2 linked regions of the Homo sapiens genome follow. The protein of the gene in region 1 purifies or fractionates together with the protein of each later gene. This does not show direct contact. Each region holds a gene or a part of one and is shown on either strand. Other genes may lie near its edges. The genes, in order: CDC42BPG and CPNE2.

Region 1 (3,806 bases):
GAATCCGTATAAGGAAGAAAACTCCCAGCAGCTCCTAGGAGACTTGTGGGAGCTGGGGGTTTGTTTGGGTTGGGCTGTGTTACCCCCCTGAGTTCCCACCTGTGCAGGAGGTGGTCGCACCTGGTCCCAGGGGGCTCCTGGGCCTTGGGCCTCGGGCCTTGGCCTGTGGACTCTGACTCTCCTTCCCTCTCCCTCTGCAGGGGACCCTGCCACCGCCCTCCCACGGGGCCTTCTCCGGCCATCACCTGCCATTCGTGGGCTTCACCTACACCTCAGGCAGGTGAGGCTAGTCCTCACACACCTGGTGGGAGGCTCGGGGTTGCCTGACCTGGAGGACACTGGGCGCGTAGCCCACTGGGGCCCTGGGAAGGAGGGCAGAAGGGCTCCCCAGTATCTGCATGTGGCAGGTGCTCTAGCCCTCATCCTCGGGGTCCTGGTGAAGCCACACCCAGGTCCTGCTGGGCCACATGCCAGCACATGGCTCTCATGGCGCCTTCCACGAAGGTCGAGGGTGCGCTGCACCTAGAGCCAGAGGTGCAGGGTTCGAAGGCCCCTACTGCTCCCAGGCCTCACTTTGTGGCTCTGTAAAATGGGTGGGATGGACCAGGCGTGGTGGCTTATGGTTGTAATCCCAGCACTTAGGGAGGTCGAGGCGGGTGGATCGCCTGAGGTCAGGAGTTCGAGACCAGCCTGGCCAACATAGTGAAACCCCATCTCTACTAAAAATACAAAAATTAGCCGGGCGTGGTGGCGGGCGCCTGTAATCCCAGCTACTTGGGAGGCTGAGGCAGCGAGAATCGCTTGAACGCGGGAGGCGGAGGTTGCAGTGAGCTGAGATTGCGCCACTGCACTCCAGCCTGGGTGACAGAGCGACTCTGTCTCAAAATGGGTGGGATTATCTCCACCTACTCCCATTCGAGGGGCTGGCCTGAGACCGCAGTGAGGTCCTGGTGCGGTGTGCTCTGAGGTGGAAGGAAATGGGTCAGATCCCCACTCCTCTAGACCAGCCGGGCCACTGTCACCACATCCTGTCCTCGACAGCCCTGGGGAGAGGCCTTGTCACCACCATCTTCCCCTGGGGAAACTGAGGGTAAAATACATTGGGTTCGAGGTGATACAGCTTGTAAGGGCCAGGATGAGGGTTTAAACCTGGGCCTGGACCCGGAGCCTGTGCCCTGCAGCTGCTACCCCGGGCTGCCACCCGTGGCACCAGTCTGGGGTCTCCCGAGGGCAGGGTCTGTTTTGGCTGTTTCACAATTAATGAGTGATTCGGTCCAGGAGGATGGAGGAGACTCTGTGGGGTGAGGTTTCTACCAACAAACATGGCCCCTGTCCCCCTACAGTCACAGTCCTGAGAGCAGCTCTGAGGCTTGGGCTGCCCTGGAGCGGAAGCTCCAGTGTCTGGAGCAGGAGAAGGTGGAGCTGAGCAGGAAGCACCAAGGTACTGGGAGCGGCTGGGCCGGGCCTGGGTGTGCTGGCCCTAGGGGCTGCTGCTGCGGGAATGGAGGAGTGGACTCACCTGTGGGTACCACCTCCCCTCCAGAGGCCCTGCACGCCCCCACAGACCATCGGGAGCTGGAGCAGCTACGGAAGGAAGTGCAGACTCTGCGGGACAGGCTGCCAGGTATCCCTTCCGCCCACCCCCCCCCCCCCCCCAGGGCTGAGTCCCACCTGGGCTCGGGTCCTGCCCTGCCCTGGACAAGCTGTATGATCCTGGGAGAGCATTTTATACTCTCTGAGCCCGCGTGTGGGAAACAGGCCAAGGAGACTTGCTCCTGGGCTGAGAGGCTGGGGCCGCCAGCACTCGAGGTCTCAGTGACTCTTCCTGGCAGAGATGCTGAGGGACAAGGCCTCATTGTCCCAGACGGATGGGCCCCCAGCTGGTAGCCCAGGTCAGGACAGTGACCTACGGCAGGAGCTTGACCGACTTCACCGGGTGAGGGCTGGGTGAGGTGGGTGAGGGCTGGGTGAGGTGGGTGAGGTGGGTGAGTGGCCCTGGGCTCCATGGACGGTTCGTGCCTGACTCTGGGCCTTGTCCTTCCCCGCTCCCTCCCCTGCCTCCTCAGGAGCTGGCCGAGGGTCGGGCAGGGCTGCAGGCTCAGGAGCAGGAGCTCTGCAGGGCCCAGGGGCAGCAGGAGGAGCTGCTTCAGAGGCTACAGGAGGCCCAGGAGAGAGAGGCGGCCACAGCTAGCCAGACCCGGGCCCTGAGCTCCCAGCTGGAGGAAGCCCGGGCTGCCCAGAGGGAGGTGAGTGACCAGGGTGGGTAGGGACAGCACCTGGGCCCTGCCCCCAGTGTGCCTGGAGGGAGCATGGGGAGCTTGGTGGGAGATGCTGCCTCCCGGTTGTAGCTGGCAGAGGCTAGGCCAGGGGATGGTGGCTGGGACGGGGCAGTCTGGGAGTCCATGCCTCCTCATGTCCACTGTGGCTGGCAGGTCTGGAGTCCATGGTAAGGTGGGCAGAGGGGCTGCCGAGGGCAGAGTTGGCAGTGGCCTGCCTCTGCACCCCTCACAGCTGGAGGCCCAGGTGTCCTCCCTGAGCCGGCAGGTGACGCAGCTGCAGGGACAGTGGGAGCAACGCCTTGAGGAGTCGTCCCAGGCCAAGGTAGTCAAGTCCTCCCCCTTGGCAAGAGGTGCTTCCCCACCAGCCTGACCCCACTCAGAGCCTCAGGGCCAGGCCTGTGTCCCAGGTGGGTGGGCCATGGCATCTTGGGTCTCTGCCCTGACCCCCTCCATGTCCCCAAGACCATCCACACAGCCTCTGAGACCAACGGGATGGGACCCCCTGAGGGTGGGCCTCAGGAGGCCCAACTGAGGAAGGAGGTGGCCGCCCTGCGAGAGCAGCTGGAGCAGGCCCACAGCCACAGGTGAGCCAGGCAGCTGGTGGCAGGGAGGGGCCGGGCCTGGCCTGGGCGGTGAGTCACGGCCTTGGCCTTCTCCTCCCCAGGCCGAGTGGTAAGGAGGAGGCTCTGTGCCAGCTGCAGGAGGAAAACCGGAGGCTGAGCCGGGAGCAGGAGCGGGTGAGCAGGGTACAACAGACGGAGGGTACAACAGACGGACAAGGCAATGGGGAGCCAGTTGAGGGGTGGGCAAGCTGCAGCCAGTGAGCAGGGTGGACATGGACGGGGCTCGGGGTGCTGGGGTACCTACAGGGAGACGGCAGTCCCAGGACTGCTGGGGCCTGGGGCTGACCTTTCCTCTGGCCGGCCCCAGCTAGAAGCAGAGCTGGCCCAGGAGCAGGAGAGCAAGCAGCGGCTGGAGGGTGAGCGGCGGGAGACGGAGAGCAACTGGGAGGCCCAGCTCGCCGACATCCTCAGCTGGTGGGTGCCAGGGGTGGGTCGGGGTGGGGAACGCAGGCGAGACTGAGGGCCCAGCCCATGACCCTGAGCCCCTTCCCATTCAGGGTGAATGATGAGAAGGTCTCAAGAGGCTACCTGCAGGCCCTGGCCACCAAGATGGCAGAGGAGCTGGAGTCCTTGAGGAACGTAGGCACCCAGACGCTCCCTGCCCGGCCACTGGTGAGCCCCAGAGATGCCCCTGGGGGCTGGCTTGGGCAAGTCACTGACCTTCCGTGAGCTCAGCATCCCTGCTACTGAAGGTCACTACTGGAGGTGGGGACACCAAGCTCATGAGAGATAGTGATTTCCCTGAGCTCACAGTGGGTCATTGGCTGAGCTGGAGCTTTGAGCCTGGCTGGGTGGCATGGGTAGCAGGATGCTCTGGTAGCAGGGGGTCCCTGAGGCAGCCAGGCCTAGAAAGCATCTTATACGGGTGCTCCGTGGCCACCAGGACCACCAGTGGAAGGCGCGG
Region 2 (3,806 bases), on another chromosome or scaffold:
AGTGACTCACTATCCCCAGCTCACAGACAAGGACACTGAAGCACAGAGAGGTTAAGTGACTTCCCCAGGGCTGGACAGCTTGTGGAGCAGGGCCGAGATTTGAAACCGAGGTCTGACTCTGCTACCCACACTCTTAATTCTTTGGCCCTGGCTCCCTACCCAGGTGCCAGGGTAAGAGCTCAGGCCCTGCCCCTGCCTGGGTAAGAGATGGAGGACAAGGCCCTTTCCCCATCTGGGCCTCCGTTTCCACCTCTGTAAAGGGAAAGGATTTGACTACTTGCGGTTTTCACTTTTTATTTTGGGAAAACCCTTTTTCAAACCATGTTTTACATGGAAACTGAGAGAGGAAACAGAAAGCAGGGAGGATTCTTCGGGGGAGGTGGGGTCAGGGACTCCCCACGGGAGCGCGGGGAGATATTTGTATCTTGTATAGAATCCTGACACTGTGCAGCCCAACACCCCACCTACTGTGGATACCAAAGCCTGGCTGAGGACAGGGCCTGGTACTGTGGGTCAGTGGTGGCACTGGGACAGGAAACCCGCCTCCTGGCCTCTGGATGCTGAGGCCCCAAACCGCGGAGTCTGGGTGACAGTCTATTTTGGGGCCCAGGCTGTGTTGACTTTTCCTCCCACCCAGTCCATTTCCAAGGGCTGGAGCAGCAGGGACGGAGGAGGTCTTGGCCCTGGGCTATTTTTAGCCAGGGTGGCTGGCCTGGGTGGGGGCAGAGGTTGTCAGGGAGGGTGGGGGATTGTGCTATGAGTCAGGGGGATACCACTCCCTCGGGGCACTCAAGGGTTCTAGAGACCTGGTGGAAGGGAACTGTGCCCCCAGACATGCCTCTCACAGGCTTGTGGCTCCCCCAGGAGTCCTCAGCTGGCCCCATGTCCCACCTCCCACTTACAGTTGTACCATCAACAAGCTGGGTGACACAAAAAAGTCCCTACCCACTCTGGGGCCCCTGTTTCCCCCTCTGTAAAGTGGGTCAACAATCCCACACCGTTTTCTTGGCATCACAAGAAGGAGCCAACATCCATGGGAACTCTTTGTAAACCACAGTATGTTCAGGTGAACTCCCACCGTGGCCTAGTTAAATATCCATTAAAAAATACACACATATTTTGGGAAATATACATGCATATAAAGCCATCTGGAAGGCTGGATACCAAACGGTTAACAGTGGTTCTCTATGACAGGTGGGTTCCTAACAATTTTGATTTTCTCCTTTAGGTTTATCTGGATTCTCTACATTTACTCCAATAGTTTCCTTTTGCAAAAGCAAAGCAAGTTTTAAAACCTGAAGGTCTGAACAGCTTAGGTTTCTCAACATCCTTCCTCAAGCTGCAACTCTTTCCAACCTTCAAGCCAAAGTCTTCCAGCTCAGAAGTCCTTGCCTGGGGCACCATTAATATCCCCAGATCTGGGGCCTTCCAAGGGAGTCAGCAGAAAAAAAATATATAATAATTTCACAGATGAGGAGACAGGTTCAGAAAGGGACAGCTACTTGCTTAAGGCCACACAGCAGGGAGTAGCATCACTGGGCCTTGGACCAGCTCCCAAAGCCTGAGCTCACTGTTTCTCTGTTTCTTACTGACCATGTGTTCATTTAGAAAGGTTATTTAAAAGCGGAAGCAAACATTTCATAAAACTATAAAATGTTAACTATATATAACAATTTATAACAAGATGGGGCGTGGTGGTTCATGCCTGTAATCCCAGCACTTTGGGAAGTGGAGGCAGGTGGATTGCTTGAGGTCAGGAGTTCAGGACCAGCCTCGCCAACATGGCGAAAACCCATGTCTCTACTAAAAATACAAAAATTAGCTGGGCGTGGGGTGCACACCTGTAGCCCCAGCTAATCGGGAGGCTGAGGCAGGAGAATTGCTTGAGCCTGGGAGGCAGAGGTTGCAGTGAGCTGAGATCTCACCACTGCACTCCAGCCTGGGGGACAGAGAGATTCCGTCTCAAAAAAAAAAAAAAGATATCAAATAATCACTATAAATCATATAAATATAAATCTATAGATTTTAATTGTAATAATTTAAACACAAAGTAATATTTTAAATATATTTAAAATAAAATTTCATTTTAAGAGTAACAATTTACCAAGTAATCCCCTGCCACCAGCCCACACTCCAACTACTTCCATCAGACATCCTGGATCCCAGTCCTGGGAGACTCCCCCTCCCCAGCAGCCTAGCCACCCCCTTACCCACCGCAGACACACGGAAGAGCCTCACCTCGATCCATCTGCCATTGTTCTCTGTAAAGAGGACACAGAAGGGGTCGGACTTGGAGGTAACATCCCGGTCCAGTAGGTTCTGGCCACTCACTGACAGCTCCACCTTGCACACGCAATACTGGGGGCCCATGGGGGCTGCCCCCGCTGCTGGGGCACCCCCACTGGGTATGTGGGCCATGGGAGCCGGTGGCGGTGGCAGGAGTTCCTGGCAGTCTAGGGGAACAGAAGTGAGGGTCAGAGAGTGGACAGACACCTGCTATGCTGCCCCACCATAGGGAGGCATTACCACCTGGCCTTTAAGAGGTGAGTGGAGAGATGGAAGGCAAATTGAGGCGGGTTGTCAAATAACATAGGCAAAGGTTTGAAGAAAGAAGAATGCAAGGAAATGCATGAAAAGGGAGTCTCAGCTGAGCGCAGTGGCTCACGCCTATAATCTCAGCACTTGGGGAGGTCAAGTGCCTGGAAGCCCGGAGTTCAAGACCAGCCTGGCAACAAGGAGGATCCTGTCTCTGCAAAAAATATTTAAAAATCAGCTAGACATGGTGGTGCGTGCCTGTGGTCCCAGCTACTTGGGAGGCTGAGGCAGGAGGATTGCTTGAGGCCAGTAGTTCAAGGTTGCAGTGAGCCGTGATTGCACGTCTCTGCACTCCAGCCTAGGCGACAGAATGATACCATCTCAAAAAAAAAAAAAAAAAAGAAAAGAAAAGAAAAAAGAGTCTCTGTCTCTGGTAGCTGTGTTAAATTTGTCTTTGAAGTTTTTCTCTGCTGTGGTCAGTCTTCACCTGTAAGGATGCACAGCTCCTTGTGTGTTGCTCCGTCACATGAGCAACAAATCACAGTGGACATGGGTGTCTCAGATACTAATTGTGCCAGGAAAACCTGGGCTTCTCCTGAGCAACTAGCATGTTGGCATCTTGTGGCCACAGTGGAGCTGACAACTGCTCAGGCTTCTCTCCTTCCTACTTTGGCCACTAGGAAGCTCACTTCTGGTAACGTCAGAGGCGTTTAAACCAGAGCAACTCCATCTTGAATAGGAACTGGGTAAAATAAGGCTGAAACCTACTGGGCTGCATTCCTAGATGGTTAGGCATTCTGGGTCACAGGATGAGATAGGAGGTCAGCACAAGATACAGGGCATAAAGACCTTGCTGATAAAACAGGCTGCAGTAAAGAAGCCAGCACCAAAACCAAGACGGCCATGAGAGTGACCTCTGGTCGTCCTCACTGCTACACTTCCACCAGGGCCATGACAGTTTACAAATGCCATGGCAACATCAGGAAGTGACCCTATATGGTCTAAAAAGGGGAGGCATGAATAATCTGCCACTTGTTTAGTATATCATCAAGAAATAACCATAAACATGGGCAACCAGCAGCCCTTGGGGCTACTCTGTCTATGGAGTAGCCATTCTTTTATTCCTTTACTTTCTTTTTTTTTTTTTTTTGAGGCAGAGTCTGGCTCTGTCACCCAGGCTGAAGTGCAGTGGCATGATGTCAGCTCACTGCAACCTCCACCTCCTGGGTTCAAGCAATTCTTCTGCCTCAGCCGCCCGAGTAACTGGGACT

The links.
Region 2: the proteins of CDC42BPG (region 1) and CPNE2 purify together in Homo sapiens (co-immunoprecipitation; one large-scale study listed by IntAct). This does not show direct contact.

The regions. Positions count from the first base shown.
Region 1 is NC_000011.10:64,834,557-64,838,362, reverse strand, and holds part of CDC42BPG (serine/threonine-protein kinase MRCK gamma), read left to right. Parts: intron 1-200; coding exon 201-280; intron 281-1,343; coding exon 1,344-1,441; intron 1,442-1,543; coding exon 1,544-1,624; intron 1,625-1,832; coding exon 1,833-1,936; intron 1,937-2,066; coding exon 2,067-2,246; intron 2,247-2,511; coding exon 2,512-2,601; intron 2,602-2,741; coding exon 2,742-2,863; intron 2,864-2,943; coding exon 2,944-3,016; intron 3,017-3,209; coding exon 3,210-3,316; intron 3,317-3,399; coding exon 3,400-3,514; intron 3,515-3,785; coding exon 3,786-3,806. UniProt on the Homo sapiens protein: May act as a downstream effector of CDC42 in cytoskeletal reorganization. Contributes to the actomyosin contractility required for cell invasion, through the regulation of MYPT1 and thus MLC2 phosphorylation.
Region 2 is NC_000016.10:57,109,355-57,113,160, reverse strand, and holds part of CPNE2 (copine-2), read right to left. Parts: intron 2,454-3,806; 5' UTR 2,419-2,453; coding exon 2,239-2,418; intron 1-2,238.